6 separate regions of the Homo sapiens genome follow, and all the other regions are reported to be linked to region 1. Evidence: microRNA targets listed by miRTarBase, many of them from high-throughput screens and not tested one by one. Region 1 holds a microRNA gene; each other region holds the end of a gene's coding sequence.

The links. Region 1 holds the annotated microRNA hsa-miR-4477b (AUUAAGGACAUUUGUGAUUGAU, at 2,946-2,967, opposite strand). A microRNA usually pairs through its seed, bases 2 to 8, with sites in the 3' UTR of a target mRNA and lowers its output. Matches are read on the target gene's strand: a 7mer-m8 pairs with bases 2 to 8, a 7mer-A1 pairs with bases 2 to 7 and ends in A, and an 8mer does both.
Region 2: the mRNA of EIF5A2 is a reported target of hsa-miR-4477b. Seed matches in the 3' UTR shown: 8mer at 3,928-3,935, 8mer at 3,124-3,131, 7mer-m8 at 1,014-1,020 and 7mer-A1 at 498-504.
Region 3: miRTarBase lists BLOC1S5 as a target of hsa-miR-4477b. Seed matches in the 3' UTR shown: 7mer-A1 at 3,064-3,070.
Region 4: the mRNA of MAML3 is a reported target of hsa-miR-4477b. Seed matches in the 3' UTR shown: 7mer-m8 at 1,558-1,564.
Region 5: the mRNA of PSME4 is a reported target of hsa-miR-4477b. Seed matches in the 3' UTR shown: 8mer at 3,243-3,250.
Region 6: the mRNA of CRB1 is a reported target of hsa-miR-4477b. Seed matches in the 3' UTR shown: 7mer-A1 at 1,406-1,412.

What each region holds. Positions count from the first base shown.
Region 1 is chr9:63,817,178-63,822,589 of GRCh38, reverse strand. MIR4477B (microRNA 4477b) reads right to left here and starts at 3,016; the gene lies at 2,936-3,016. It overlaps LINC00537 (long intergenic non-protein coding RNA 537), which reads right to left. Exons shown (of 2, transcript NR_146626.1): 2 at 3,561-5,012. It also overlaps the pseudogene DUX4L50. RefSeq lists enhancers at 3,883-4,419, 4,420-4,958.
Region 2 is chr3:170,888,949-170,894,360 of GRCh38, forward strand. EIF5A2 (eukaryotic translation initiation factor 5A2) reads right to left here. Exons shown (of 5, transcript NM_020390.6): 4 at 5,344-5,412; 5 at 1-4,471. The coding sequence ends at 4,412. Among named protein-coding and RNA genes, the nearest start is that of EIF5A2, 17 kb to the right of the region's middle.
Region 3 is chr6:8,010,702-8,016,113 of GRCh38, forward strand. It overlaps BLOC1S5 (biogenesis of lysosomal organelles complex 1 subunit 5), which reads right to left. Exons shown (of 5, transcript NM_201280.3): 5 at 2,866-5,127. The coding sequence ends at 4,948. All of the region lies in intron 4 of BLOC1S5-TXNDC5 (BLOC1S5-TXNDC5 readthrough (NMD candidate)), which reads right to left. EEF1E1-BLOC1S5 (EEF1E1-BLOC1S5 readthrough (NMD candidate)) reads right to left here. Exons shown (of 7, transcript NR_037618.1): 7 at 2,866-5,127. Among named protein-coding and RNA genes, the nearest start is that of BLOC1S5, 51 kb to the right of the region's middle. RefSeq lists a silencer at 1,350-1,558.
Region 4 is chr4:139,715,441-139,720,852 of GRCh38, forward strand. It overlaps MAML3 (mastermind like transcriptional coactivator 3), which reads right to left. Exons shown (of 5, transcript NM_018717.5): 5 at 1,313-4,883. The coding sequence ends at 3,883. It also overlaps a transcript of MGST2 not described here. Among named protein-coding and RNA genes, the nearest start is that of MGST2, 52 kb to the left of the region's middle.
Region 5 is chr2:53,862,091-53,867,502 of GRCh38, reverse strand. It overlaps PSME4 (proteasome activator subunit 4), which reads left to right. Exons shown (of 47, transcript NM_014614.3): 45 at 623-756; 46 at 1,280-1,418; 47 at 1,930-3,434. The coding sequence ends at 1,414. Among named protein-coding and RNA genes, the nearest start is that of GPR75-ASB3, 4.8 kb to the right of the region's middle.
Region 6 is chr1:197,476,612-197,482,023 of GRCh38, forward strand. CRB1 (crumbs cell polarity complex component 1) reads left to right here. Exons shown (of 12, transcript NM_201253.3): 12 at 1,053-1,844. The coding sequence ends at 1,268. Among named protein-coding and RNA genes, the nearest start is that of CRB1, 210 kb to the left of the region's middle.

The sequences.
Region 1 (5,412 bases):
GTGTTAAAATGTTTAAGAATTTACATATTAGGTACGTTAGGTTTATTCCTTTTTATATGGTTTCTGTTTGAAATTTTGGTTTTAGAAGACATTCATTCTCAAGGTCATAAAACACACACATCTAATTTTCTTTTTTCTCTCTCTTTTTTTTTTACATTTAATACTGGAATTAACTTTTATGTAAGGTGTAGGACCATGATTCAATTCTGTCATTTTATATTCTGAAATCATTACCCAATATTTTAATACCACAAATGGAACAATCGCTCTGTTTTGTGGGTTTAAAATGTTACCCTGTTACTAGATAAAATTACACTCAATTTCTGTGTTTTTAATTCTCTTTCATTAATGTGTTTATTTTTGTGCCATTTCAAATTTGTTTAATTTTGGATAGTGATAATAATCTTAAATATCTTATAGTAAATTTTATAATAATGGCTCTCATTGTATGTGTGTGTTCAATATATGGATTTAAAATCACATGTTCTTGTTCGAAAATATTTTTCTTGGAATTTTTATTGGAATTTGAGCATATTTTTAAATGATTTACAGCCAACTAAAGAGTTAATATTATTGAGTCCTGTCATCCAGAATGTGACATGCAAATTCCTCAGACCTCCTTTAATGCCATTTAGTCAGAATTAATATGTTAAATCAATATAAATTAGTATAAATGAGTATAACTAATGATTAAAATAAATTAATGTGTTTGGCTCCACATTTCTGTCTTCTGCCTTCTATCACTGATGTTTTATTCCTATCCTTGTTGTTTTCTATAGTTTCTTTTATTATGTCTTTTTCTGTCTTGTGATTTGAAAACTATATAACACATTGTAATGTTTTAATTTTTCTAATTTTTTGCTTTTAATTTTAACTAATTTTATTTTTTAGAGAAGTGCAGGTTCACAGCTAAACGTAGCAGAGAGTACAGACTTCTCATATGTCCCTTTCCCCACACACAGCCTCCCCACTACAGCTTCCTGCCTCACAGGAGCACACCTGTGACAACCAGGAACCTACCTTGATCCTTCATTATCACTCAAAGCTTACAGTGCACATTCACGTTTACTCTTCACGTTGTACGTTCTGAGTCTTGACAAAAGTATAATGGCAACGGGATATTATTCACTGCTAACAGGAGATGAACTATCAAGCCACAAAAAAATACATGGAGGAAACTTAAATGCATATTGCTAAAAGAAGAAGCCAATCCGAAAAGTCTACGTACTGTTCGATTCCAATTATATGACGTTCTGGAAACGGTGAAACTATGGGATCAGTAGAAAGATCAGTGGTTGCCATGGACCAAGGGGAAGGAAGAGATGGATACACAGAGCACAGAGAATCTTCACGGCAGTAAAACCATTCTGTATGATACTATAATGGTAGATATATACATTTGTAAAAATCTATCTTAACTTTTAATCTTTTAAATTACATTTTTTTTTGATGGAGTCTTGCTCTGTCGCAAGGCAGGAGTGCAGTGGCACGATCTCGGCTTACTGCAACCTCCGCCTCCCGGGTTCAAGCGAGTCTCCTGCCTCGGCCTCCCGAGTAGCTGGAACTACAGGTGCCCGCCACTGTGCCTGGCTAATTTTTGTATTTTTAGTAGAGACTGCGTTCACCATCTTGGCCAGGCTGGTCTTGAACTCCTGACCTTGTGATTCACCCGCCTTGGCCTCCCAAAGTGCTGGGATTACAGGCGTCACACACCGCACCTGGCCGTTTTGTTTTAAGAACTGCAGACAAGCTGGGTGCAGTTGCTCAAGCCTGTAATGTCTGCATTTTGGGAGGCTGAAGTGGCTGGATTGCCTGAGCCCCAGAGTTCAAGACCAGGTGGGCAACATAGTGAGATCCCGTCTCTACAAAAAAAGTATTTAAAAAAAAATAGCTAGGCATAGTGCTGCATGCCTGTAGTCCAAGCTACTCAGGAGGCTGTGGTAGAAAAATCACTTGACCCAGCAGTTTGAGGCTGCAGTGAGCTATGATCATGCCACTGCACTCTGGCCTAGGCGACAGAGCGAAACCCCATCTCAAAACAAAGAACAACCAAAAACCTAGAAGCATACTCAGAGATATTGTGGGTTTGGTTCCAGACAACTGCAGTAAGGCAAATGTTACAAACAAAAACCTACAAGCACACCTCAGAGATAGTGTAAGTTTTGTTCCAGAACACTTCAATAAGGCAAATGTTACAATCAAGTTAGTTGCATAAACATTTTATTTCCCGGTGCTTATAAAAGTTATGCTTAAACTATATTGTAGTCTAATGAGTATTTAATAATTATTAGTTATTAATTAATAGCATGTCTAAAAAACTGTGTACATACCTTAAGTTAAAATACGTCAGAGCTAAAAAATGCTAATGAATATCTGAGACTTACCACGTCATAATCTTTTTGCTGGTGAGAGTCTTGCCTCTATATTGATGACTGCTGGCTAATCAGCGTGGGGGCTGCTGAAGGTTGGAAACCTGTGTCAATTTTTTAAAACAATGAAGTTTGTTCCTTTCACAAAAGATTTCCCTGTAGCATGTGATGCTGTTTGACAGCATTTTATCAACAGTAGAACTTCTTTCAAAATTGGAGTAAACCCTCTCAAACCCTGCTGCTGCTTTATCAACTAGGTTTATGGAATATTCTAAATCCTTTGTTGTCATTTCAACAATGTTGATAGCATCTCCACCTGGATTATATTCCATCTCAAGAAAATATTTTCTTTGCTCGTCCATAAGAAGCAACTCCCTATTTGTTCAAGTTTCATCATGAGTTTACAGCAATTTCATCTCACCTTAAGGCCCTAATTCTAATTCTAGTTGTCTTGTGATTTCTACCACATCTGCAGGGACTTCCTCCACTGACATCCTGAGCCCTCAAAGTCATCCATGAGGGCTGGAATCAACTTCTTCCAAACTCCTGTTAATGTTAATATTTCATCCTCCTCCCATCAATCACAAATGTCCTTAATGGCATTTAAGGATTGCTATTAAGGACATTTGTGATTCACGGGAGGAGGTTCAAATATCATGAAAGGATTAATGGTGAATCCTTTCCAAAAGGTTTTCAATTCAGTTTATCCAGATTCATCAAAGAAATCACTATCTATGACAGCTATACCTTTACAAAATGCAATTATTAATTAATAAAAACACTTGAAAGTCAAAACCACTCCTTGATCCACAGGCTGAAGGTAAATATTGTACTAGCAGCCATGAAAATAACATTAATTTCCAAGTACATCTCCATCTAAGCTTCTGGGGAGCTAGGTGAATTGTCAATAAGCAGCAATCTTTTTTTCTTTTTTCCTTTTCTTTCCTTTGATTTTTTCTTTTTCTTTCTTTTCTTTCTTTTCTTTTTCTTTTTTTTTTTTTTTTTTTTTTTTTTTTTTTTTTTTTTTGACGTAGTTTCACTCTTGTTGCCCAGGCTGGAGTACAGTGGTGCGGTCTCGGCTCACTGCAACCTCTGCCTCCAGGGTTCAAGCCATTCTTCTGCCTCAGCCTCCCGAGTAGCTGAAATTACAGGTACTACCACCATGCCTGGCTAATTTTTTTTGTATTTTTATTAGAGATGGGGTTTCATCATTTTGGCCAGGCTGGTCTTGAACTCCTGACCTCAGGTGATCCTCAGCCTCCCAAAGTGCAGGGATTACAAGTATGAGCCACTATGCCTGGCCAACCAACAATCTTTTTAAAAGAATCGTTTTTTTTTTTTTTCTGAGCAGTAGGTCTCAATAGTGGGATTAAAATATTCAGTAAACCATGCTATTAACAGATGTGCTGTCACCCAGACAGTGATGTTCCATTTCTAGAGCACAGAAAGAATAGATTTTGCATAATTCTTAAGGGCCCTGAGATTTTCAGAGTGGTCAATGAGCACTGGCTGTAACCTAAAGTCACCAGCTGCAGTGGTCCTCAAAGAGAGTCAGCCCATCCTTTGAAGTTCTGAAGCCAAGTGTTGACTTCTCTCTAGCTATGAAAATTCTACATCTTCACTAAGCTTAATCATTTCTAGCTCTGGACTTAAAGTGAGAGACTTGCAAGTCTTCCTTTCATTTGAGTTCTTTGAGGCCACTGTGGTTACTAATTAGCACCCCTGGTGGGTGTCACCCTCCTCCCTCCTCTATCGGGTTCACCTACACCGGGGCGTGGGGAACGTCGCTTCCTGCACCCCACATGCCCTGCGCTCCTGGGGCTCTCCCACAGGGGGCTTTCGTGAGCCAGGAAGCAAGGGTCATCCCCCTGCTCCAGCCCAGCCAGGCTGCACAGGCAGAAGGACTCTCCCAACCTGCCCGAGCATGCGGGGCTTTGTGTTCACTGTCCTGGCCCCTCCCTCCGAAACTGGGGCTCTCCCATCCTCAGACTCCCTGGTGGCCTCCGAACCCCAACAAATGACAGGAAGACCAGAACCCACAGCGCGACGGCCTGCTGGGCGCGTGCTCAGTGGGACAGCTTGGGGCCCCTCAAGCTGAGTCACAGGGGAAAGGTGTGCTTGCACCACCCACGTCCCACCGGAGTCCGTGGTGGGGCTGGAGCCCCAGGTCGCCAGGGCGGCATGGGAACCCGAAGACGGGGCACCTTCACCTCCCGAGCTCGTGACCCCGGAGGCCTCCGCGTCAAGCGCAGATGCCAGCCAACCGGGCACCTCCCAACCGCTCCAGGAGCCGGGGCTCTCGTCTGCACTCACCTCCAGCCTGTTAGATGAGCTCCTGTCAACCCCAGAGTTTCAGCAAAAGGCACAACCTTTCCTAGATCCGGCGCCACTGGGGGAGCTGAAGGACGTGGAAGAGCCCGCTTTGCTGGAACCACTCCTCAGACAGGAAGAACACAGGGCTCTGCTGGAGGAGCAGGTTGGGGCGGGTTTGGGGCAGGGTGGGGGCAGGGTGGGGGCAGGGCGGCGGCCTCTCTTTTGCAGTGAACCTCAGGCTTGGTATGGAGAGGCGTGTCTTCCCTTCCAGCTGACCTCCCTAGGATCCCTGAGTTCCAGGTCCAGCGAGAGACTCCACACAGAGTAGGGCTGTCAACAATGAAAAGAAAGCATTCCTGAGCATCCCGGGGATCCCAGGGCCGGTCCAGGTACAGGGAGGTGGGCTGTCTACTGCGCATGCGCGGGTTTCCAGGCAGCAGCCTAGTCTTCTAACTAGCCCAGGCGGAGCTCTCCTCCCTTTCCCCCCCGCGTTCTTCAATCGGGTTGGCGGAGACCTCAGTCCGCGAAACACTGGGCCGGGGCAGAATCCAGGCCAGTTCTCCTTTCTGTGGCTCAACTCCTCCGCCTCTTCGCTCACCATCACTTGCCAACCCGTGTCCCGCCAGCCTCCTCGCCAGCACCATAGAGCGCCTTACAACTAAATAAAGACCCGAGACCTCGCGCAAACCAGGGTGCTGCCCTTTCCAGGCAAGAGGGAAGGCAGGCAGAG
Region 2 (5,412 bases), not on the chromosome of region 1:
CAGAGTTTTTTAAAAAGTGCAATCTTGAACTAAGATAAACTTAAGTCTATCAATACCAAGAAACAGTTTTAGGGACTTCATATAAATACAATAACCTGTCTTTTTTTTTTTTTTTTTTTTTTTGTAAAATAGGTTTCTACCTGTTCTAAGGAGGAGAATAGTGGTAGATGGCAAAGTTGGCAACAAGTATGTTTCTAGCAGGTGAAAGCCTGGTATGCATTGCCATAAAGTGCATCTTTTACATAAGGAAAACATGCTTATTAGATGTATACAGTACTTTTCAGGCACTTGACCTCACTTGGTAGCTAAGTTGGTGTTCAGATGTTTGTTTAATGGAAAAACATTAAATTACATATTGGCTTCAAGCCATGTTCCCATAGAACATCTGTGTTTCATAAGCTAAATCCAAATGTTCCCTGCTAAAATCAAATAATGATGCCATATACCCAATTCAGAGAAAAAATTTAATAGATTAAATAGATTGAATTGTCTCAATTTTTAAGGTTTTCCACCATAAATTTTTCTTAAATCTTTGTTGCCTGTTACTTGTCTGAATGTTAGCAGAAAAAAAAGGCTTGAAAACTATGAAATATTATGCCTAACTGATGTTAAAATGAGAGCTGCTGATCAGTACAATATACTGTTAATGGAAATATGCTTATATTTTCACTCTTACACTGCTTAAGAGCCATATTTTCTCATAGTAAATGCGTTCCTAGTTCATATTACAGAATTCAGTATGTAAACATTTCAGTGTACCCAAAAAAGCATTATGAATTTATCTATTATCCCTAAATATGTTTGGTGAACCTCTACATCAATGCCTGGCTCCAAAACTATCTCTGGGGTCCATGCCAAAGGAATGCTTTCAGATGTATCCTAAGGATAGGATTCTAAGATGAGACTGCCAAAATCTATTCTAAAATGAAAAAAATATGGCAAGATTCCAGTATGGATGCTACTGTTTCCATTTTTTTCTTGACTATTTAGCATGTAGTTTAAGTGTGTTGACATTAAGGATTTTTTTATATGCATGTATCACAGTTATTACAATTTGGGAAAATTCTGCCAATATATTTTCAGGCAATTAGCTTTAAAATAATGAAATTTCAGCTTTTAGCACAAATAGCCCTGAGAACAATGCATTCAAATTACAGCTCAACTAGAAATATTCTAATTGAGAAACCTTAAAGTACAAAAACAAGTTGTGGAAAGTTGTAAATTTAAAAAAAAAAAGTTACCAACAGTTGAGGCACCAACAGACTACAATACTTTTAAGAGTTGGGAGTTTGGAAAAAAGAACTAACATATAAAGTTATGTGCGCACATGTGCACATGCAAATTGCATTGTAATGAAAAATTGTGTCTCCAAATTTTACAGCCTAATCATTTTATTGCAGTATCTCCTATTATAGATATCATGCTCTGATGCAGGAGAGTTTTGGTAATTAACATAAAGCGCTGGTACAGAGACTTGTATCATTAAGGGAAACAGAGTCAAGAGCTTGGTTAGCAACAGTTTCTTCAAGTGACTGAGCCCCTGGAAGGGAGCATGAAAAAAACATCATAATTATGTTTATGATGCAAATGCTAAGTCAAAGTAGCAATGATATGATCTATGTTGTAGCAAATAAGGTATAACAAAGTCTTCACAGTATAAATAAAATGTTCTAAAAAGAAACAAATATTCAACCTGTTAATAAATTGGTGAAATGTATACAGATAAAAATGGCTTATCACTGTACAATGATATCAACATGACAGTCCACATTCTATACATGGTAACTCGTGATTTTTAACATTTGCTACAAAAAAGTACAACAAATATTGGGAATCAACTTTAACATTTCTGATGTCTAAAAAGAATGAAGTCACTTCTGTTCTATGTTAAAAAATACATGTTCCCCGCTTCCTTTTAATATAATTTATAAAGCTTTACTAAATATTTTGTTCTAGAGAAACATCTATTGACTTATGTGAAAATAAAGTCCCATATCTTTAAAATCTATACTTATATATCGAGTATTTACACTTCATATATTACTTAAAATGAAAATATTTATGCATAAATAGCGTTTGCCATTCAAAGTATGAAGATAGAGATGCATTATTATAATTTGTACACCCTTAATTTGTACACAATTGAAAATATATTTATGTGAAATTTTACAAGTTAGGAAGAACAGGGGCATGCTAATTGAGAGTTAATACTGAATCATAACACCAGCATGGTTAAGAGGGGCCATATGAATGAACTGCAAGCAGCACGGATTAATAATTTTCTGGAATTCCTATGAGTTACAATGCCAACCAGTAGCAATTAAGATACACATTACAGAGTACTAAGAAACTAGAGCAGTATGTAGTAGGTACTTAAATAGAATACTGGAAAGAATGTAGCCTAATTTTAATTGTGCTTTAGATGGGCAAAAGCTAAAATGTTGTAGGAAAGACGACTAACTACTACCTCACTATTTCTTGTGCTTTAGAAATTTCCTTTGTATTTCTCTTAAAGTATCTTGCTTCTTCCCCAAATTGGTTTGCCGAGGCTAAGACAATATTTAAAAGTGTGTACAAATTAAGCAACTAAAACTTGGGATCTTCTGTTACTAATGCTATTTCCAGTCACTGATTAGATCAGTTACATCATCATATATGATATACTTTCCTTTAGAAGATAGGAACAAAGGGCTTTTTAGAGGTCAAGGCATGATGGGAGAGGTCTAAGAGCCAGTCTTAGAGAATTAAGGTATTTCTGAGATAGTGATTTTGTTCTATGTTTTGCTCCAATATGATGATTGTCACTGAGTCAAAGGTCCTCACAAACCCTGTAATAATGTCTAAAATTCTGGAAATAATATACATATGACTCAAAAGATGAAATAGAAATGCAGTGGTGTCACCTAAAATACCTTTTAAAATAATTCAGTTTATAGAATTATTTGCTAGTTATAGTTCACACCAGCAACTGAATTAAGTCACACAACAATCAGAAAAAATGCATATACTTAAAATAACTTAACTTAAATAATAATATTCATATAAAGTAATGCTGCTTCCATGATTCACTTTAATTCACTTTAGGAAAAAAAGGACATAAAATTAACAAAAATTCCAAATCAATTTAAGGAATTCTCAGTTTTTGTTTAATAAATACATTAATGTCAAAAAATCTACTTAGAAATGGTTGGAAAGGGGCTGGGTGTGGTGGCTCATGCCTGTAATCCCAGCACTTTGGGAGGCTGAGGCAGGTGGATCACCTGAGGTCAGGAGTTCAAGACCAGCCTAGACAACATGGTGAAACCCCATCTCTACTAAAATACACAAAAAAGTAGCTGGGCGTGGTGGCATGCACCTGTAGTCCCAGCTACTTGGGAGGCTGAGGCAGGAGAATTGCTTGAACTCGGGAGGCAGAGGTTGCAGTGAGCCGAGATTGCACCACTGCACTCCAGCCTGGCTGATGGAGTGAGACTCAGTCTCAAAAAAAAAAAAAAAAAAAAGGAAGTTGGAAAGGAGTATTTACTGATAAATATTACTATTTATTCAACATAGTTGGAAAACAAGCATTGCATAGTATCATGTAAAGCAGATCACTCCCTTTAAACGTTGGGGGCAAAGTTAAAAGCAAAAACAACTGAGAAACAACTTTTCATTTTTATGCTGACTTACAAAGTCCTCACATAAAAACTTATAGATTTAATCAACCCTCTTTGCCACTGTCTTTTGTGTCTTCCTTATAATCTTACTTGCTAACTAACTTTCACCCAACAGTTCAGTGCCCTTCTGCCAACCATAAGAAGGGACTAAAACCACCATATAAGGTTACATCAAGTTTGCCAACAATTTGGTAAATAGTATGACCAAAGTAATCACATGGTTGCATGTGGCCACCAAAATAACTGACAGTTTTTGATAACATGATTTTTGTTTAAGGATTTGTGTTTGCCCTACACAGGCTGAAAGTGCAACAATTCCAATATATAATCAGTTCATTTTATATTAAATCTGTAATTAATGCAGAGCAGTTCAACTTAAATATGGTACTTCAATACCACTTTATGCTACATTGTTTGATTTAAAACCCTGGTTTATCATCTAACTAAAACACAGGAATGATTTGCTCAGACAAATCACATCTGCTGAAGCTATCTTGTTTGTTTCTTGGACTGACATACTGAAAACCACAGGAATATTATAGGAAACATATCTACAAAATTCAAAAAAAATTATACATATTGATAATTTTTTAAAAATTATCAATTGCTTGCAAAACTAACCCAGCACAATCTGAAAACAATTAAAAAAAGAAATGAGGTTGCTTATGAAGGCTATAGCTTTGGTGACAACTTAGAACCAAATTAGATCTGCAGTTGATTCAGACATAAACAGTGTTCATGCCTGATGTTTCCGTTTATTTGCAGGGTTTTATGGCTACAGCATATTCTTCACTCATTGCACACATGACAGACACCTAGAAGGAAAAAAGCAGGCAAAACGTTATTCAGAAGACAATACATATAGAAGATATAATTAGTTCCTCATATATTGTATATTTGTGGATATTTTGTACATATGGACTTCTGAAAGGGGTATTCCAAAACAAGCTACTTTCTTTACAGTTTTCTAAAGCAGAATTTCTCAGAGTGGTTTGTAAGACAACTTCCAGGGAACAGGAAAAATAACTATAAATGTTTGAACACTTACTACCCGTTACATTTCTGAAAGTTGTAACGAAGACAGTAAATCTCCTTCACTCTTTAACATTCCACTAGCATCATTTCTTACCTGTAAGAATAGCTCAGGGCTGGGCGCCTTGCTCAGGCCTGTAATCCCAGCACTTTTGGGAGGCCAAGGTTGGGGGATCACCTGAGGTCAGGAGTTCAAAACCAGCTTGGCCAACATGCTGAAACCCAATCTTTACTAAAAATACAAAAATTAGCCAGATGTGGTGGCACGCGCCTGCAATCCCAGCTACTCAGGAGGCTGAGGGGAGAATCGCTTGAACCTGGGACGCGGAGGTTGCAATGAGCCGAGATCACGCCACTGCACTCCAGCCTGGGTGACAGAGGGAGACTCCGTCTCAAAAAAAAAAAAAAAGTCAGGTGCAGAGCTTCAAAACAAATTTGGGTTTGAGAGTAATGCTGATGTAGCAAAAATGAACTTTGATACTTTCTTTGATAATGAGTCTCTAAGGGTTTTATGGAAAACCTGCCTGAGAGATCATTTTCAACATTTTAGCAGTATTTTTAAACCACATTCCATATGTAGTATTTTATGTTAACTAGTTGAGGTCAAAGTTTTTATAAAATGGTTTTCAAAAATAATCCTTCTCTAAGTCTTTACCTGTACATCTTCACCTGCATTGTATTTTCCCTCTATTTCTTTGCCTAGTTCACCTTCTGGCAGTTTAAG
Region 3 (5,412 bases), not on the chromosome of region 1:
AAAATAAGTACTTTTAATATGTTTAAAGAAAAGAAAAAGAAGGAATAATGGAACCATCCCAGACAACCCAGGAAAGTTTAAGAAAGAACCAAACAACTCTTTTGAAAATAAAAAAAATAATAACTATAATTAACAACAGATGGGTAAAATAGGTTAGAGATAGAGTGAAGACAGTATTAATGAAATAGATTTAAAGAAATTATCCAGAATTCAACACCTAGAGACAGAGAGATGGGAAATATAAAACAGGGATTAAGAGATATGGAGAGGACAGTGAGATCATAAAACAGAAGTCTTAATTTTATTTCCTAAAGGAGAGAATAGAGAGAATGAGGGAGATACAATATTCAAAGAGACAGTAGCTGGGAATTTTTCAGAATTTATGAAAAGTACCAATTCTCAGATTCAGGAATCTCAATCAATCCCAACAGGACAATGAAAAGAAATATACAGCTAAACATACTGTAGCATGGCCACATTTGACTGTAGAACACCAAAGATAAAGATCTTAAATATGACCTGAGAAAGAAGGCAGATTAGCTACAAATACTGATCAGACTGACAACTGTCATTTCAGAAGCAGCAATGGAAGCAAGAAGACAGTAGAATATTATTTGAGAAAACAGCTGTCAACCTATAATCGTATACCTAGCTAACTTTCAAGGATAATAAAATAGCAAACTTCTAGGTAAATCTACATAAACACTGACTATACAAAATAACTACTTTTGTAGTAAAATCGAGATAGAACTAGAATTCTAGACAACAATTTGTAAGTTGAAGAGATAAATCAGACTTTGTACAAAAATCTCTAAAGAATAGGAAGAGAGTAAAGATGTTAATTTTAGATTCTGTTAACTACGCAAGTTAAATTTCCTACTAAGCACTTCATTAAAAGTTAATTTTTACATATAAATAAAATACATATCAAAACTGATTTGGAAACTGGGAAATGTTTAACTTTGAAAGCAGCAGAAGAAAAGTAGATGGAAAAATGAAACAAAACAAACTCAAGCTGAAAGAAGTCAAGAAACAGAAAAGGTGGGACAAAAAGCACAAAATAAGATGATACAAATAAATCTTAATATATCAGTAACTTTGACAAATGTAAATGGATTGAACTCCTTAGTTGACAAATGATCAGAAAGAAAGAAAAACATCCAGCCACACAGTTTTTTTTTTTTTTAAGACAGAGTCTCGCTCTGTAACCAAGGCTGGAGTGCAGTGGCGCAATCTCGGCTCACTGCAACCTCTGCCTCCTGGGCTCAAGCAATTCTCCTGCCTCAGCCTCCTGAGTAGCTGGGACTACAGGTGCACACCACCACGCCCAGCTAATTTTTGTATTTTTAGTAGAGATGGGATTTCACCATGTTGGCCAGGATGGTCTCAATCTCCTGACCTCGTGATCTGCCCGCCTCGCCCTCCCAAAGTGCTGGGATTACAGGCGTGAGCCACCGTCCCCGGCCCCAGTCACACAGTTTTTAAAGGGCATATCTAAAACATAACAGCAAGGTTTAACAGAAGGATGAAAAAAGATATATCCTATAAATCCAGCTAGCTGGCATAATCCATATAAATATAATATATAGTTTATGTATTTTTATATTTATGTATATATTTATAATTATTTATTTATAACAAGACTTCAAAATATATAAAAATATATAAAACTAAAATTGACAGAATTACAGGGAGAAATTGGTAAGTTCACTAGAATAGAAAATTTCAACACATCTCAGAGTCTGAGAGATCAAGTAGAAGACAAAAGAATAGTAAAATGGAAAAAATTTGAACTACAAAATTAACAACTTTGGTCTAATGGACATCCAACAACTAAAAAACAAGCATACTTTTCAAGCAATCATGAAACATTTACAAAAACAGGTTATAATCTAGGTCATAAAGCAAATCTCAACAAATATTAACAGATCAGTCTTAACATGTACCTATTTTCTGTCCACAATTCAAATTCAATTAAAACAGGAATCAATAAACACAGAATTTAAAAATATACACGCTAGGAAATGGGAAAAAAAAGCCTCATACATATGTTAGTCGAGAAAGAAATCATAATTAAAAATTAAAAATACATAGAACTTAACAAATCTTTCTATGGTGCTTTAAAATTATAAAACATTATTTCATTTGATCATTGCAATAATCCTATGAGCTACATAGAACCCACAATATCTCTGCTCAACAGCACAAACACAGCAGAAATGTTACAAACTGGCTAGGCACAGTGGCTCATGCCTGTAATCCCAGCACTTTGGGAGGCTGAAGTGGGCAGATCACTTGAGGTCAAGAGTTCGAGACCAGCCTGGCCAACATGGTGAAACCCCTTCTCTACTAAAAATATAAAAATTAGCTGGGCATGGTTGTACATGCCTGTAATATCAGCTACTCAGGAGGCTGAGGAACAAGAATTGCTTGAACCCAGGAGGCAAAGTTTGCAGTGAGCCGAGATCGCGCCACTGCACTCCAGCCTGGGTGACACAGTGAGACTCTGTCGCGCAAAAAAAAAAAAAAAAAAGGAAAGAAATGTTACAAATTATGTAGTTATTAAAATTGTTTTTTACATATAAATAAAATATATATAAAAAGTGATTTGGCAACTAGGAAACAGAAGCAAAAGCGTTCACCACTAAAAATATCAAAAGGAAGGTAAATAAACCAACTCTTATAGAAGCTATGTCGAATATCAAAAGGAAGGTAAATAAACCAACTCTTATAGAAGCTATGTTGAATAGTTAAAAATGTTACAAGAAACAATTGAGTATCTTAATGTCTAAAGCTCAAAAAGCCCATCAATTCATTTTGGTTTAGGAAGTCCCTTAGGTATTTATGGAATAATAAACAAACTTATAGGGTAAAGTATTTATTATTCACATGAGATGAACACAAACTATCAGAAATCTTTGCTATACAAGTTGGGTAGCCACAGTTAAGAATATATTCCCTTCACACACACAATCTTAATTTCTTGGTTACAGCATTCGTTCAATGATGTGTTGGCAATTAATCGCATTCCAAAAAGTGTCTACGGTACAAAGGGAATTTTCATTTAAGGCTCCCCTCCCTTTTCATGTGTGGGATATTTTTGGAAGTATTTCTTTTTCCATCCACTGAATTAAGAAAATTCCAACATGCCTTGGTGTCAGCAAGTGCGCTTTTTAGTCCAGGTACCAGCAAATGATTGATGAGCCTGTCAAGCCTACAGTAGCGGATAGAGAAAGTTGGCAGAAGTTCAGTGTTATTGAAAAAAATCTCAAATACTTATTTCATCTCCTCTATTAACTTTAATCACATTTTCAACATGCAGCCAAGAATGAAGCTTTGACAGTAAGCCATACATTTACACAGGCAGGCATTGTCAATTTTCTGCAGTCGCCACACTGAGATAACACAAGAGAGCTGGATATTTTCTTTCTTGTGCCTTTCTTTACTAAAGAGCAATAAAAAATATGTGAAAGATTTATCCATACCTCAAATTTGTTTACCATAAATCTCGAAATTATTGCATTTACTTTTGCTTGGTTTATGGCAAATAAAAAATCAACTTAGTTCTTCAGTTAGATTTTTTTTTTGTTGAGATGGAGTCTCACTCTGTCACCCAAGCTGGAGTGCAGTGGTGCCATCTCAGCTCACCGCAACCTCCGCCTCCTGAGTTCAGGTGATTCTCGTGCCTCAGACTCCTGAGTAGCTGGGATTACAAGCGTGCACCAACATGCCGGGCTAATTTTTGTATTTTTAGTAGAGACGGGGTTTCACCATGTTGGCCAGGCTAGGCTTGAACTCCTGACTTCAAATGATCCGCCTGCCTCGGCCTCCCAAAGTGTTGAGATTACAGGTGTGAGCCACTGCACCCAGCCTCAAATTAGACTGTTAAATGCAGGTTTTTAAAGATCACAGTGATGACAGAACTGGTACATGTTTCATCATAATATACCTGCTTATGAGAACAGACATTAACACTAAAAAGGATTTACATTTAACATGGACCATTTGCTGTGTGGGCAAACACTTCTGGTTCATTCAAAGCCAGGAACTTTATATGGTTCCAGAGGGACTCTCTGGCAGATTTTGTTGATTACTCATTAAACAGTCGAAACATGTATAGACATTATTTATCTTATAAAGCTTACCCACAGCAAAACAGACACAAAAATGAGGTAAATACTATGGGCAAGATTATAGCTCTTGGAAAAACTAAATGTCAAAATATATTTTTGGTAAGCTTTTCCTTCTAAGCATGCTTTAAAAAGCTGAAAATAGTAAGTGCTGGAAGGCCACAAAACTTAACATGTGTCTTCCCATCCACGGAAGCCCATGGCATTATGCTGCACTGTAAAATATGCAACGCTTCCCAAGAGGCAGCTCAAACACCAGCGTGGCCATCTTTGCCACAGCAGAGACAATGTGTTCACTCTCACCTCTCTGAAATGTGATCTCTGCTCCAAGGACAGCTGGCTTTTTTTTTTGTCTACATTACTCATGCAGTAACACTTTATACATCCTTCCAACAGCCAAGGAGGCTATGACAGGTAGCTTCTATACCTTCCCATTAAGCCACAATAATAAACTATTGTTAACCCTGTATAGAAATGAATGAAATTATCTTTCTAAGAAGTCTATACCTACAGTTCTCTGAGCTAATCAATGGAAAAGATGATCAATTCTGACTAACAAAGAGTATATTGATTCCATTTTCCTTCCTACTCCTCTTCATTCAAATAATCATATATAGGCACTTAAAGCTGGAAAAATGTGGCACCCTTCTTTAAATATCCAATCAGAATGCCAGTAGAAACTTCTTTCTTCTGATATAAGAGTGCCACTGAATATATTGCTAAGCTTGAAGCAGAGGCTAAACGGTCTGGTGGGAATAGTTTTCAGGAGAGAGGTGAACATCTTCTCATTAGTTTGTGATTGTTGTGGTTCAAGTTCTTAAAAGGTTGAAAATTTCGCTAGGTCCTTCTCCATCTCAGCATATTGTTCTTTAAGCCTTTCCATGGCTTTTCTGTGCTCTTCATCCACTTCAGCCCTTTTGTTGGGTTGCTCCTTCATGAAGTTGTCCCACTGGAGCATATGCTGTTTCTCACTAGCTACTAAGTGGTCACTATGAATCTGAGAAAAGAAAATTAGAAAGTCACACGACATTTTCCAGACAATTATTTCATAACGTTATCTCTTGATACTTGGTTACCGTAACAATCAGCTGGTAAGTCACAAGGAAAAAGTTGTGTTATAATATCCAAAAAAAGATGACACATTAGAAACATCTAAGGCTTCTCTCATTAAAATTAAACATGGATATTCTCATTTCTTAAATTTTAAAAGTGGGCTGGGCACAGTGGCTAATGCCTGTAATCCCAGCATTCTGGGAGGCCGAAGCCGGTGGATCACCTCAAG
Region 4 (5,412 bases), not on the chromosome of region 1:
AAGGGGTCCTGATGCAGACCCCAAGAGAGGGTTCTTGGCTCTTGCGCAAGAAAGAATTCAGGGTGAGTCTGCAGTGCACAGTGAAAGCAAGTTTATTAAGAAAGTAAAGGAATAAAAGAATGGCTACTCCATAGAGCAGCCCCGAGGGCTGCTGGTTGTCCATTTTTATGGTTATCTCTTGATGATATGCTAAACAAGGGGTGCATTATTCATGCCTCCCCTTTTTAGACCATATAGGGTAACTTCCTGACCTTGCCATGGCATTTGTAAACTGTCATGGCACTGGTGGGAGTGTGGCAGTGAGGACGACCAGAGGTCACCCTCGTCGCTATTTTGGTTTTGGTGGGCTTTGGCTGGCTCCTTTACTGCAAACTGTTTTATCAGCAAGGTCTTTATGCCGTGTATTTTGTGCTGAACTCCTATCTCATCCTGTGACTTAGAATGCCTTAACCGTCTGGGAATGCAGCCCAGTAGGTTTCAGTCTCATTTTACCCAGCTCCTATTTAACATGGAGTTGCTCTGGTTCACACGCCTCTGACAAAACTCCTGGGCTCAAGTGATCCGCTTGCCTTGCCCTCCCAAAGTGCTGGGTGGGATTGCAGGTGTAAGCTACAGTGCCCGGTCTGGGGGGCACCTTTAAACCAAGTCCCAGCCTTTGCCTGATCTTGCAGTAGAGCTCTGGAGCAAAATTATATCTGAGTTTGTTCAGACAAGTCAACTGGGCTTTTATACTCCTGCACCAGTGAGTCACTGGCTAAAGTCAATCCAGAGGGGTATAAACTTCTAAGCACTTTCAATTCTGTGGGTGCAGGTGAAGCCAGGCCATGGTTTGAGATGCAAAGAAGTGGCCTGGTAGGAGTGGGGTGGTGGAGGCTGTTTACTGACAGTGCTCACTACAGTGGAACAAGAACCTTTATTACTTCCCCTCAATATATTCCGATTTTTCTTTTTTTGACAAAAATATTTATTTTTCCAGTGGAGCCTCCCTACCTCCAGATGAACTAGTTGGAAATGGAATTGTTATGGTACTGAATCTACAAATGGATTGCACTATGTTCCATGCAAAGTTGACTTTCCTCCCTTCCCTTTGCCACATCCTTCAGAGTGCGGCAGTAAATTCAGAAAGTATCATCAGTTGTGCAGTTGAATGCAAAGGCTGGGAATGATTGATCTCTCCCATTAAATAAATGTTTAAAGAATGATATCAAAATTTTGAGAAAAGAACTGCAGTTAATTAAAACCCAGGAATAATATGTCTGCTTAATTAAGATTGGAGCTCCAGTGAGGATCTTAAAATAAACTATACTTTGGATTGATTCAGATAATCTTTTATTTTTGTTTTTGTTTTCTTTAAAAGTGGTATGTCAACATCACTTCATTTCTACATTTCAGCGTTCTGTACATTTCTTAAAAGGAAATAAGCAATGCTCAATGTACAAAGTAAAAACAGAAAACTAGAAAAATCTGAATAAAATGGAGCAAGTTGCCAGAGGTCATACAGTACAAATTAGTAATTAGATGTCATCTGAAGTGCAATACCACTGCTGTGATGATGAGTTAAGGAATGAAATAAAAATACTCTATTTTAAACAAACAGTATATATATATTTATATGTATATTTTTTACAGATAGTAGACCCAGTGATATCTGCAGTATTGTAAAAACTTATGTACAAATAACTTTTTTTAGACATTACATATACATCAGCACCGTAGTAAAAACAAAACCAAAACAAAACCACCATATTAAAATCTACCTATTAGTTGGTCCCAGTACTGAGCATTTGGAGGAAGCTTTTAAAAGATAATGGAGCCCCCCACCCCTGTCTGTCTCACTTCCATTAGCCACCTCCAGTTTCTCATCATTGCTTATATATTTATTTCCTGTACCTTTCAGGAAAAGGTAATTATGTTTTGTGTCTTCTCATTTGTTTGTTTGCTTTTTTTTGGTTTCATCTCTTTGATCCACTCAGTTTCCCCAGTGGCATCACTCCCCATTTGGGGAGTTCAGGGTCACCCTGCTGCCACCTCTTCGGAGAGGGCGCCCAGCCCCTGCCTGGGCTTCTCACCCACCAGGCACCTCTGGCCTTACATCCTGCCCCTTCCTGAGCAGCTCTACAACCCCGGGTACGCGGAGAGCAAGTCAAAGGCAATGTTTGCCTGCCGCCTCCTCTCCAAAAACACCTCTGCCCCCAGCTTTCCATGGCAACTCGCCTTCTCAGGACTGAGTGTGGCCAGTCCAACCCCACAGGCTCCGACTCTTCCGTAGTGATCTGCCTGGGAGTGCACAGAAGGCAGCCAGCGTCTAGGACACGGAGGGAGGAGGGGACAGGAAAAAAGCACACGCCACTCTCACTTAGGACGACACCGAAGCCACAAGTCCTCCAAAAGGGGGATTGGGAGGGGAGGCAAGGAGCCTTGTTGATTCCTTCTGACAGATTTCGCTTAGGGCAGATGTGCGTCAATTGCAGAGAACAACTGTACAGGACTTTGGAAGAGGACTACTTTGCCCATATGAAATAAACTACATCTCCTTTCTATCCAAATTTGTAAGGTGGAGCAATTGCTTTTTTAGCTCCTCCACCTCTCTGGGATTTTATATTTGTCTTTCTGATGAGTAGGGATGATGGGAAAGGTGGATTTTTAGAGCATCACTCCCAGGATTTCGCCCAAAGGGAGCCTGAACCAGTGACCTCCAGGCCACTCCTTCCTGGGGATATCAGAAATATCAGATGTGGCTCACAAAAAACCGACTCCCAAACATCAGAGCAGCCCTCTTGGTTCCAGGCAGATATTCATTCAACGCTACACGTTAGAGAAAGAAGACTCCAGTGTCGCCTTTGCATTTCAGGCATTGTCTAAGTTCTTCCTGCATTTATGTGGACTCTGCCCAAGGCTCCCTAAAGACATAAGCTTCACTTCTTGGATAGTCTGTAAGGAGAAGCAAGGGGAGGCTGGTGTGGAGGCAAGGAGGAATAAAGGCAGGGCTGGAGACAAAGGCTCCAGGCTGGCAGACACACAGGGTCCAGTAGGGGTTTCCCTGCCCTGCGGCCGCCAGAAGTAGATGTGACCCACCTGGATGTATGGGTTTTGTATTGGGCGCCAGCAGGCTCCAGCCCCACCTGGAGGGACTGCCACCAGGGGCACCAGCAGAGGGAAGCCGTCCCAGGACTGCCGGATGGACCCTGCTCCAAACTCAGCCTGCTCTCCTTGTGACAGCAGAGCCTTTGCAATTCCTGAGGGTCATCATGGGGCAGGAGACAGACAGTCCTGTAGGATCTGTGGTTGTCTCCTTTTGACAATCTCACTGTTCTTCGTGCCTGCCCTCCAAATTCAGTAGCATGTCTCAAAGCCTTACATCTCTCGGCACCCAGAGTTCAGTGCATTTCCAACCTGTGCACCTGGCCTGTGCAACCACCCAGCCTCTTCTGGGGGACTCACTCTCCCTGGCTGAGGCTCTGTCTCTTTTGTGTCTCCAAAGCTGCTGTCTCCCGACCTGGGGCAGGAGGGGCTGAGGATACCTCTCTTGGGTAATAGTCCCTCTCGGCTGAAGCAGCTCCTGCTGGGCCAGGCGATCACAGGGCATGCTGGGCAGAGGGGCTCTGGCCGGCTTCATCTTCCCACCTGCTCCTCCGGGTGTCTCCCTCTCTCGCAGCCGGGATCTGCATGGCGTCTCATCTCGATTGCTGTGTGAAAATCAGGTGAAATGAGGCCTGGTGGGGCTGTGGATTGGCACCTGGATCTTCCATTGTCAGCCAGCTGCAGTTTTGCTCAGTTTACGTGGGTCAAAAAAACAAAAAACAAGGATGGGTCAACATCCTGTTTCTTTTTCACTTTTTAAGCTTTAACCACTCGAGTTGTGGATCTTGGGGCCTCTCTTGATTAGGGGTTACCAAACAATTCATCAAGCTCCTGCATCCACTCGTCCCCTGGCCCGCCTTTGATGATGGAGTCCACAAGGTCTGCACCGTCCGGGAGGCCAGGGAAGGAACCCCCAGCTCCGTCGCCACTGTAATTGTATGACACGTCCTGAGGGGCATTCCGCTCATAGGCTTGGCTCTGGCTGCTTGGAGCAAAGCTGCCACTGGGTATCTGCTGCTGTGCTGGGGGCTGGCTGAACGCTGGCATGCCTGGGACTCCCTGGCTCAGGCCAGACATGACCATTGGCCTCGCCTGGCTGGTGCCTTGCTGCCCCGGGAGCGATGGCATCATCTGCCGACCCATGGCAGCTGGGTTGAGGGTCCTCACTGTGCCCGTGTTAGCATCCACGACTGACTGGCTCAGTCCCTGTGGGAAGTGCTGCTTGGTCAGTCTCGGCTGCCCAGCTTGAAGAGGGTAGCTGGCGCCATTGTTGAATGGTCCCAATTCTCCACTAGTCCTCCCAGGCATGCCCTGCAAGCTCCTCTGTTGCCAGCTTTGTGCTCCTTGCTGGACTGTTCCCATAAGGCTCTGCAGCCTTGGAGGGGCTTGGGGCCTAGGCAAGGCCTGGCCTACTGGCCCTTTCATCTGTGGATGTTGCTGGGTAATGGCTGAGTTCACCAGCATGCTCTGACCAAAGCCACTCACCATTCCAACCCCCTGCCCAGAGGCAGGTTGCCTCGGTCCCTGGGCTTGGTTATGTGTGATGCTCATGCCACTTTGGTTTGGATGCTGCAACATTTGGGTCATGCCTGTGCTCATATTGTACATTCCTGGTTGGCTGGTAGGCGTGGTGCTATAAGGGGCCAGTCCCATCTCCGACTGCGCAGCTGCGGTGGCCATCGTCCCAGGGTTCTGGGAGGGTCCTATTCCCATCATGCCTGCGTTCTGTGCCATCAGCCGTGACGTTCGCATGCTCTGGAGGGCTGCTTGGCTTCTTACGGCTGCTATATCCTGGGGAGAACCTGCAGTGAAAAAGAGGACACATACCACTCACTCTTCTCCATAAGCAATATACTGCAACAAGATGTTGGAATTTTCTTTGGGAATGACAAAATTCCTTTATATGAAAGGATCTACTCTGATAATAAATCTGTAACAAAAATGATTATTTTTCTGATTATAGCATATGCTGATTGTGAAAATTTTGAAAGTGTTAAAAAATACAGAGACAAAAATTAAAGTCACCTGAAATCCCACTATCCAGAGATGATCATTCCTATTCTTTTATTTGTATATAAATAGACACCCACAAAAATTGGGATCGTACTGTGCATGTGTTTTTGTAGCTGACTTTTCCACTAAACAGATCCTGATGTAATTCTTGTTTATACTTCAGAAGCAAATTATTTCGTACTCTTATAGGTATGACATCATCCTCAACCAATAAGATACTATTTTCTTTGGAGGTGAGAGAGAATCCACCTCTGGGGCTAAATTAGAAAGAAATGGCTGATCACTTTGTATTTTCTATTTGTGAAGTGGAACATGGTT
Region 5 (5,412 bases), not on the chromosome of region 1:
CCTTGAGACGGAGCCTCACTCTGTATCCCAGGCTGGAGTACAGTGGTGCGATCTTGGCTCACTGCAGCCTCTGCTTCCCTGGTCAAATGATTCTCATGCCTCAGCTTCTGGGTATCTGTGACTTCACATGCCATCACACCCAGCTAATTTTTGTATTTTTAGCAGAGACAGGGTTTCGCCACGTTGGCCAAGCTGTTCTTGAACTCCTGACCTCAGGTCATCCACCCGCCCTGGTCTCTCAGTGTGCTGGGATTATAGGCATGAACCACCATGCCTGGCCACCAGCTGATTTTTAAAAATTATTTTTGGAGAGACAGGTTCTCACTTTATTGCCCTGGCTGGTCTCAAATTCCTGGCCTCAAGTGATCCTCCTACCTTGGCCTCCCAAAGTGCTGGGATTACAGGTATGAGCCACTGTGCCCAGCTGACAAATTCTTAAATACAGAATTATTTTTAGTTTAGCCTCAAAATCAAGTATTTGATGTGTTTACATGTAGATTCATTTTAAATGCAGAAATTCACATATTGAAAACAACACAATTGAAAACTAATTTTATCTCACTGTAACAAGTGCATTAGAGACATATATATATTTGCACAAATGTTGCTATTCTCTTTGCAGAGTTGGTCAAACGCCATGCTGGGGTGCTAGGACTTGGTGCATGTGTTCTTTCTAGTCCTTACGATGTTCCCACCTGGATGCCCCAGCTCCTCATGAATCTCAGTGCACATCTAAATGATCCTCAGCCTATTGAGGTACAGTTCTTCCTTATTAGTTTGTACGTGTATTATCAGTGATGTTTTCTAAGAAACCATAATAATAATTTCCTATACACTCTGAACTAACTGCTTTCATAAAGCTGCTGCCTCTGCCAAGGCTTAGTCTGCTCACCAGTAATTATTAAAAAATTACAGAGACCTTGCTGCCATGGATATTTGAGATCTTTTGGTAGTGAGGAAATTATTGTAGCTTCTATCCCTCCCAGTCCAATGGAAGTAAAGTACTGTCAATATTGTTGTGATAAATTTTATGTTTCTATTTTTCTAGCACTGCAAAGTATTTTACTGGAAGCTAATATTAAATAGGAAATTATGATGGCATTTTTAGTAACTCAAAAGACCATTCACTTTGTCCTTCTCATTGGCTTTTTGGTTTTGTAGAACTTGGTATTGTGTGAGATCTGAAGTCTAGAGGGACGGTAATTTAACTAAAAGTATCCTACATATGATCCTGGTTGTCCAGAGAGGTTAAAACGTATGTGGGTTGTCTACTTTACAGATGACTGTAAAAAAAACCTTATCCAATTTCCGAAGGACTCACCATGACAACTGGCAGGAACATAAACAGCAATTCACTGATGACCAACTGCTTGTTCTCACCGATCTTCTTGTGTCACCATGCTATTATGCATAGAAAGGTAAGTCAGCAAAGTTCTGAATTTACATTGGTTTGGTGACTGAGAACTAGATATTTATTGTTTTTTTTCTTTTTGCTGACATTCTTAGATGTCAGTGTTTAGATAAAGTTGGATGGCGGGGATTGTTTGTTTTTAAACATGGCTTTTGCTACGGCCATTGGAAATGAGAATTTTGCTGTGCCTCCTTGCTTTAGGTTTAAAGCAGAGAAAATGTGTGACTGCTTTTGGACCTTTGTAGATGAGTGGTGTCAGCCTGGGAATAGTTAGATAAAGGAAAATACATCTTATTCTTGGTTGCCTCCTGGGTGGGGCTGGGACATTTTGTGTGGCCCTGAGGACTCTGGGTTCTAAAAGTTGTGAGAACTTGATCTGGATTCTTACACCCATTCTGTTAAAGAGGGAGTACCCAGAAGCCTTTCTACTGGAATAGGAAGAATAAAAATTTCATTTATTAGGCTTTTAGAGTTGGATGTCTTGTTACCTAATTGAAATTTTTTCCTCCCTGATACAGATGACTAGTCCTCACTTCAGGCTCTTTTCATCAAAAATTCCACACCCTCAGGTACCATCTGTGGTGGCTCTCTGCAAGTTTTAAAACTGCCTCTGCTGAGCTCTCATCATTTTGGTGGTTTCTGTGTTAGATCTCGTTAGTCTGCATTCCACAGCTTCTCAGTTGCCATTTGATTTCCCAACTTGTCCGGAAGTGTTTCCAGAATACTGATCACTTTTTTTTTTTGAGGCATCTGACAAAGTCACAAAGTCTCAGACTAGAAATAATTACCCAGTATGATCATGGCATCCAAGACCAGAGTCTCAGAACTCATTAAGAAACAGTTTACTTGGAATGGAGAATACCCATCTGTAATACAGGTCCTGTCATTTCATTCATCTCAAATTATTTTGAATTCTTCCCAAATGGCTGCTGGATTTAGGTGGTAATAGGGGCTGTGGGCCATAAATCTGAAGCCTTGAGAACCTTGGGTCTGGAGAGCCATGAAGAGGGAAGGAAAAGAGGGCAAGTCCTGAACCTAACCAATGACCTGATGGATTGCTCGACCAAGACACAGAAGTGAAGTCTGTGTCTGTGCACTTCCCACAGACTGGAGTTTTTGGTGCTGAATAGAGCCAGTTGCTAAAAAATTGGGGGTTTGGTGAAGAAATCTGATTGTTGTGTGTATTCAATGTGTGATTTTAAAAATAAACAGCAACAACAATAAAAACCCTGACTGGCTGTTTTTTCCCTGTATTCTTTACAACTATTTTTTGACCCTCTGAAAATTATTATACTTCACCTAAATGGAAGACTGCTGTGTTTGTGGAAATTTTGTAATTTTTTAATTTATTTTATTCTCTCTCCCTTTTTATTTTGCCTGCAGAATCGTTGAGAGACTAATAAGGCTTAATATTTAATTGATTTGTTTAATATGTTATATAAATGTAAAAGAGTGTATAAACTGTAGAGATAGCATTGGCAAGACATTGTACAGATGCAACCTTTTACACAACATCATTGTGTAATTTGTAAAGATTCACGTGTAGTTCTTTATTATAGTGATTTTGGGCTTTGTACCCACTGAATGCCATTTTTTGTGTTTTTAAATTATTTTCTTTATCTTGTTACAAAAACTGAGATGTGGGGTTTTTTTTTTTTCAGTTCACTTATCATTAGAATGTCTGAACTTTTATGTAACATTTTTGTGTGCATCTCTCAATGCTAACACCACATGTTTGCCTATGACAAGTTTATAGAGTGAAAGGTATCTTCTGGGTTGAAATAATTCACAAATTGGTGAATGTCATCTTGCAACACACCCTGTACAGTCTTCCTTAAAGGAACACTACAGTATATTTTTAGTATCTACATGCTGAATGACTGAATACAGACCTAAGCACAGCAGTGGTCCTGGTACAGTATTTAAGTGTCGGCATACACAGGCGTAATCCCTGTATAAAGTAGTGCCAAACTGATTTCAGTTGTGTAACTAGTTTAAAACCCAATAAATGGATTCTTTTTAACACCTGGCTTTTGTCTTCATTAAGAGGAGAAGACAGTTCTGTAGGCAGTGACTCCTGTGGATTTCCTTTTGCAGCCATAGATTTGTATCTGTAAATGTATGTCCTCTGACCAGTATAAATTATCTGGATCTGCCCTGTACAATACAGTAGCTACTAGCCATATCTGACTATTTATATTTAATTAAATAAAAAATGTATTCCCTCAGTCTCACCGGCATATTTTAAATACTCTTGAGCCACATGTGGCTAGTGGTTACCACACTGAATAATATCGATGAACTTTTCCATCATCACAGAAAGTTCACCTAGCACTGACCTAGGTGATTGATTGTTTTTGTGTGGAGGTGTGGGAGACAGAGTTTTGCTCTGTCATCCAGGCTGGAGTGCAATGGCACAATCTTGGCTTACTGCAACCTCTGCCTCCCATGTTCCCATGAGGAATGCTCATGCCTTAGCCTCCAGAATAGCTGGGACTATAGGCATGCACCACCACGCCCGGCTGATTTTTGTATTTTAGTAGAGACAGTTTCACCATGTTGCCCAGGCTGGGGTCAAACTCCTGAGCTCAGGCAGTCCACCTGCATCGGACTCCCAAAGTGCTAGGATTACAGGTGTGAGCCACCGTGCCTGATCCTAACTGATTGGTTCTTAAATTGATGTGCCTAAGAATCATGAGGGGATTTTGTTTAAATGTACAGGGAATTCATTGTTCCCACTTCATGATATCAATTCCTGGTCCTGAGGCCACACGTTGAGAAGTGAGGCTTTATGTTGTATGTTGACCACTTCAGCTTTTTTTAGTTAAGCTGTATGAAACTGCCTTAGCAATGGTTCCTAAATGGGAACTTTAAACAAAGATGTAAGATACTGGGTGCCCTCTCTGTTCCTCAGTGAAAACTTCTCTGGCAGGGGTGCTTAGGCATTACAGTATTAGAAGCTCTATGATGATTCAGTTGTTCAGCCAGGTTTGAGAACCACACGAATCCCACCACAGACCTAAAAAGAGGGTACCTTAATCTGAGTGCCTAACATGCTCCCAGGTGATTCTGATTCTGGGTTTGGAAGTCGCTTATTACTTTGATATTTCCCTAGTGACATTGTCCTATGAATTAATTGTTTACCAATAGGAAAAATGAAATTTTCTACCAGGAGGGAAAAGGAGAAAGGGGGTGGAGAAAAGAGTTGCATGGCTTGTATGGTCTAAGATAGTTCTTAACATGTATATGGTGTGTTAAAAAGCATGAGGACAGCAGGAACTGTGTTAAGGGTGGTAACAAGATTTACTAGAGGAGGAGGGGAGAGGCTGACCTGTGTTTGGAAGTCACTGTTGACTGGGCATGGAAGACAGTATGGGCCACTCTCTGAGGGTGGATGAGAAGTGAGGAGAAGAAAAAGCCTATTTATCTTTTTATAAGGTCAAATAAATCTTTAGTTTCTGAATGGATCCTTTAGAAAGCAAAGACTGCAGATTGTCCTTCAAAATGTAGGAGGAAAATTTACTCACCTATTAATGTAAATGAAAGTTTAGGTGCAAATATATGATAAAGCTGTTTTCAAATATTTGAAATACTTGTCATTACCAAGCCCTTTAAGCCGCAGGCCACTTTTGGTAATTAGGAGTGTGGCCAGAAAGACTAAAGAGCAATTTTGTTTTATTAAAAAATTAATTTTGGCCAGGCGCAGTGGCTCACATCTGTAATCCCAGCACTTTAGGATCGCTTGAGCCCAAGAGTTTGAGACCAGCCTGGGCAACATAGAAAGACCCTATTTCTACAAAAAATAGAAAAAAATAGCTGGGTGTGGTGGTACGTGCCTGTAGTCCCAGCTACTTGGGGGGCTGATGTGGGAGGCAGAGGTTACAGTGAACTGAGATCACGGCACCGCACTCCAGCCTAGGTGACAGAATGAGACCGTGTCTCACAAAAATAAAAAAATCATGAGCTATCATCACAGGAAAAGTAACTTTTTCTACGTGGCC
Region 6 (5,412 bases), not on the chromosome of region 1:
AATTGTATAATAATTTAAACCAAGACACAGGGGACAATAAAAAGAGACTAAGGATAGAAAAGATATTTAAACTCTCTAGGATGTTAAACACAGATTTCATTTGTAATAGATTGGTTTGGTAACGTGGGGATGAGTCCTAGAGAAAGCTAAATAAGAAGGTAAAAGAGTTTACTACTGATTTACTCTGATAGAAATATGTCTTTGAAAAAATCAGTTTAAAAATTCAAACAGTAACTCCTTTCTGTCTTTAATATTTCTGTGCAACTCAGTCACAGTTTCATGTTAGCCATTGTTAAACTGATAAGAGCTCAGGTTTGCTAAAAAGTGTTTGCAAACACATCGGAATTAACATTAATCAAACCACTGTGTAAAAATAACAACTTTGAGAGCCCAGGATCCAGCTCCCTTTGACAGGGCTCTACCTGCCGTTGTCTGCTGCTAGATACTTGGATTCAGCGTTAAGCACATGTGCCTTTACAACCATTCAATTGCCATGTTGAATCCGAATCAGAGTGATTCCTTTGGAAACCCCCTGCGAGACCAGCGTATCACAGTCCCTCCTCTGTGTCAAGAATTTTTCCCACAAGACCCAACTAATTTAATTTCTTTCCTTTCCCAAAGCAACAAAACAAAACTGTAAAATAACCATTTCTTCAGTCCCAAATTAGAACTTTTGGCAAGGGAGGAAAGAGATCATGAATAATACGTGGCTATAGATCTAGAATCATTTTATAAATATAAGTGTGGGCTCATCTTTTGCCTTTGTTGCTACATGAATCATCTCAGTCACTGAGATTAAGAGACTGAGCAAATATAGTAGGTATTTCATGCCATATTTTCTGACTGTAGACTTTAGATTCTAGATATATGATTATTTGTAAATGATTTGAGAATAAGAAAATCTGACTTTCTTTTAATACCTTGGTCTTTTTACAGTACTGAGTGGTACCAGCTTGCTCTGGTTGGTCTTCATTCCTGAGTAGTTCCATTGTCCTGAATATTTATTTGCCTTTGCTATAGAATTCGCATCCCAATGATTTCAATCTTTCCAGTTGGCAGATGACTTGATCTCCGACATTTTCACCACTATTGGCTCAGTGACTGTCGCCTTGTTACTGATCCTCTTGCTGGCCATTGTTGCTTCTGTTGTCACCTCCAACAAAAGGGCAACTCAGGGAACCTACAGCCCCAGCCGTCAGGAGAAGGAGGGCTCCCGAGTGGAAATGTGGAACTTGATGCCACCCCCTGCAATGGAGAGACTGATTTAGGAGCATTGTGTCCCTTCGAGATGGGGATCCACACACTGTGAATGTGATGACTGTACTTCAGGTATCTCTGACATACCTGACAATGTTAATCTGCAACTGGGATTACACTGGAACTACAGGAATGATTCCTTTGACCACCTTAAAAACTTTCACAGTGGTTCCGCTCGACACCATTGTTTTATTATATTATATCAGCCAATTGCAAAAAAAGTCTGTGCCAGTAATTTCAGCCTTATAATTAGCAAAAACATCTTCCAGAGAATAAAGTCTTCTGTGGCTTTAGTGGCTATCACTGAAACTCTTTCCTCTTTTCAACCTGGGAACAAATTTTAGTTTTCATTTTAGGTTTCTGTACTTTCTGTAGTTTCTGTGTAAACTGCCATATGTTTACATGGAAACTACAGGAAAAAATTGGCTACATTTCTCACTTCTCCTATCATGTGGTCAAAGTTATTGTTGTATACCAGCGATGGGATGTATACTTTTGTCCTTCATTCATGGATTCAGAGAAAGCTCTGGGAATGACTTATGGTCCAAAAAAGTGACCCAATGGCAACAAATAAAAATTGAAATGCAGTTGTTCTCCTTTCTGAGTACTTTTTGCATTTTTGTGACATTATGTGTGACAAAAGTAACCTCTAGGAACATTTGAAGAACCTGCTTATGAATTAGACCTTTTACCTAAATCATTTCAAGTTGGTTACATTTTCAAATTATTACTCTTTGTAAAGGGTTGGTTAAGGCAAAACGCTTCCTAGATAGAAATCAAAACGGGGAAAACTCAGATTCTCAAGTTCGAAAAATCGAGTTCTTTTCTTCCAACTGCTTTTAGGTAAATCAGTGCCAAACAGTGACATTGTTTAAAGGTAAGAACTCCAAAGTTAAATGTATGCACTTTACGGAGTATGTGTTTTAAGACTATGGGATATTTGGAGAAAATGCTGGGGTTTCTATTCTTATATTTTCTTCTACAAAGCATCTGATTATATTTTTATATGTGCTTTGAAATATATGAAACATGCTACTGCTGTAGAATATAAATAAAACTTAAGAATAGATGCATATATATTCTGGGTATACACTCAACATGTCTAATGACATGAATTTTTAAATCTGGTCTAGAAGAACCCATCCATCTCAATTACTCAAGGACATCATTTCAGCAAGTGCCCTTCTCTTCTACATCATCAGTTTACCCATTGTCCTGGGGCATCCCTATCAGCACCAACATGCTGTCATATTTCCTATCATATAAAATTCTCTCCTGTGGCCCTCATCTCACTCCAATATCTACCCCATTCCTCAACACCCCTTTTCAGCAAAACATCTACAGAGGAGTTTTCTGTATTTTTGGTTTCCCTTTTCTTGTCTCTCATCCTCTCTGGAACTTAAACTAATTTGGCTTTTCTCATCACCACTCCATGACCTCCACATGGTCAAACACAATGTCCAGTCCTCAGTCCTCAGCTTACCTGACCTCTCCTAAGCATTTGAAACAATTGTCACTCCTCTTGAAATATTTTCCACACAATGGGACACCATTTCATCTTGATTTTCTTCTTACCTCACTGTCCATCCCCTCTCCATCTCTTTTGATAGTTTCCCCTCATTCCTTAAACTCTGCTTTATTTTTTTCCATACTGTTTATCACCACCTGAGAGACTGCGTATTTTTTTTTGTTGTTGTTGTTCTCAATTTTCTCTATCTAGAATTTAGGTTATATGAGGATAAGAACTATTTTTTTTTTTGACTCCAGTATCTCTCACCTGGAACAGGCCTAACCCATAGTGAAAACACAATAAATATTTTCTGGATAAATAAACAAATAATGAATGAATGGTGCTCAAATTTGTACCTGCCACCAGAGAAATCCCAAAGTGCCCAAGATTTGTGTGGGCTGTCATTGGATGCTCTGGTCATGAAACTATCATGGCTCTGTAGCCTATCTAATGTCTTACTCAATCTCAGGCTTTTTTATCCATATCTAATATTGCTTTAAGTGTAAGTTTAAGAAAAAGCATGTCTCCAGTGTCTACATGTGAAGTATACTATGAGCTATATTTATTTTTGCATTTCATTAGATACAACTTCTTAATAGAAGTTCATATGGAAAAGAAAGAGCTCATGCTTGAAAAAATAAGTAGCTGAGTTAAAAACACACACACAAACTAAAAAAAAATCACAGGATATAAAATGATTCTATTGGTTTAATTAATCTGAGTATTTGCTCTATTCCAGTACCTAGCTTAGAGCTTTGCATAGGAATGTATGTCCAAATACATGGATAAATGAATGCATGCAGGCATGAATAAATGAGTGATTCTTTCCATGTGGACACTCCAAGCACGCACACATTTACAGGCTGCCCCAGCAAGCCAAATCTCTTTATCTTTGAAGAAGCTAAATATTCAATATCTTATGTCAAGAATGCTTCCAAATTAGCCCCATGAAGTATTTGTACTGAACTATTTTTAACAATGTAGACCTCATCTTAGTGGAAAAGTGAAGCATCTGCATGATCAATGACGGTGCAGCTTTTTAATAGAATGTATTTTCAAAATTTGTATTAGGATTGGTTTCGAAGACCGCAACAAAACACCACAGCAATTCCTCCCATGCTCATTTGCAATGTGACATTGCCACCCCTCCCATCAAGAGGAGTCTGTTTGTCTTCTCCTTGAATTAGGGCTGGCCTTGTGATTTGCTGTGGCTGACAGAATGCCATGGAAATGATGCTCTGCCATACACAAGAGGCTTGCAGCTTCTGTTTTCCCTCTCTTGGAAGGCGACCCTGAGATTGCCATACTGTGAAGAAGCTTGGAATGAAAATAACATGTCAAGAGAGAGTCCCAGCCATGCCAGACATCCCTGCTGAACCCGGCCTCAGTCACCGTGCCTGCTGGATGCAATCACTTAGTGACCCACGTGAGAACAGCAAAGGAACCACCAGCTCAATCCACAAAATCATGAGAAACAGTAAATTGTTTTAAGCCATTAAGGTTTAGAGTGATTTGTTACATAGTAATAGATAAATGAAACACAATTATTCACATCAATAAGGCAACCTAAGGAATACAGCAATATGAGGTACTTCTTTGATTCTAATTTCTTTGCTTTTAGAACTGCTGCTCTGGGAACTGGTGGACTATAGAGTATTCATTTGTATAGGAACAATAATTAGTACATTATGAATAAAATATGACACCTATATGTCAGATTTCTCTCAGGATGGCAAATAAGGGTGAAGAGCCACTTAATCCAAACACAGGTCCAGGAGGTGCTGAGGGTTATAGTCCTTCTAGCGCAGCTGTTTGCAGGCTTTGGGGCATGGTGTAAAGTGGACACAGCCGGCCAACTTCCTGCCCTAGGGTGAACCCTGGCCCAAGGCAGCCAATGTAAAAGGCACACATCTGGTGTGAGTTTACAAGGAGTGACAGGAAGCCTCCTTCAAGCGGACTCTCATGTGGCTTCTGTAGTCACAGTGAGTGCAAAGAGAAGCAGGAAATGACAAATGACTGTGACTTAAATCAGCTGTCAAGCCTTCCCCTGTTTTATTCCTAAATTACCACCGTATAATAGATCCTCTTATCTGAGACTGAGACAGGTATGGTCCCAGAGTCTGGCCCTGTGTAGCCATAATTGTTATTATCATTACCAATTAGTATTAGCAGCAGTAATTGAAGAGTAACAGTAATAGGGAATAGAGGTAGAACTAGAAGCCATCATAGCAATGATAATAATGATTATTATAACAATAAAGAGGGATCCCTTCCTGAGCCCTTGCTAGAGGCCAAGACTATCTTAAGCTTGCTGCGCTACATGCATTATGTCTCATTTAGACCTCATAACAGCCTTTGAGGGAGGAACTTTTATCTTCTTCTCACGAGCCTCTGCAGACAAAGAAACATAGTTTTAAACTTCTGAAATGCCCCATTCAGCTGATCTGAGCTTAATCTGAAAAATGGGAATCACACCTCTATTGCACAGGCACATTATGATAACATTATTGGAAAATGCTTAACTACAAGTAAGCACACAATACATAGCATCTATTGTTACTATTCAGATAAGATGAAGTGTTAGTAGGACAAATGACAAGCAGCAGTAACGTTTAAATGGTTTCCACACTCCTACCTCCTACTTT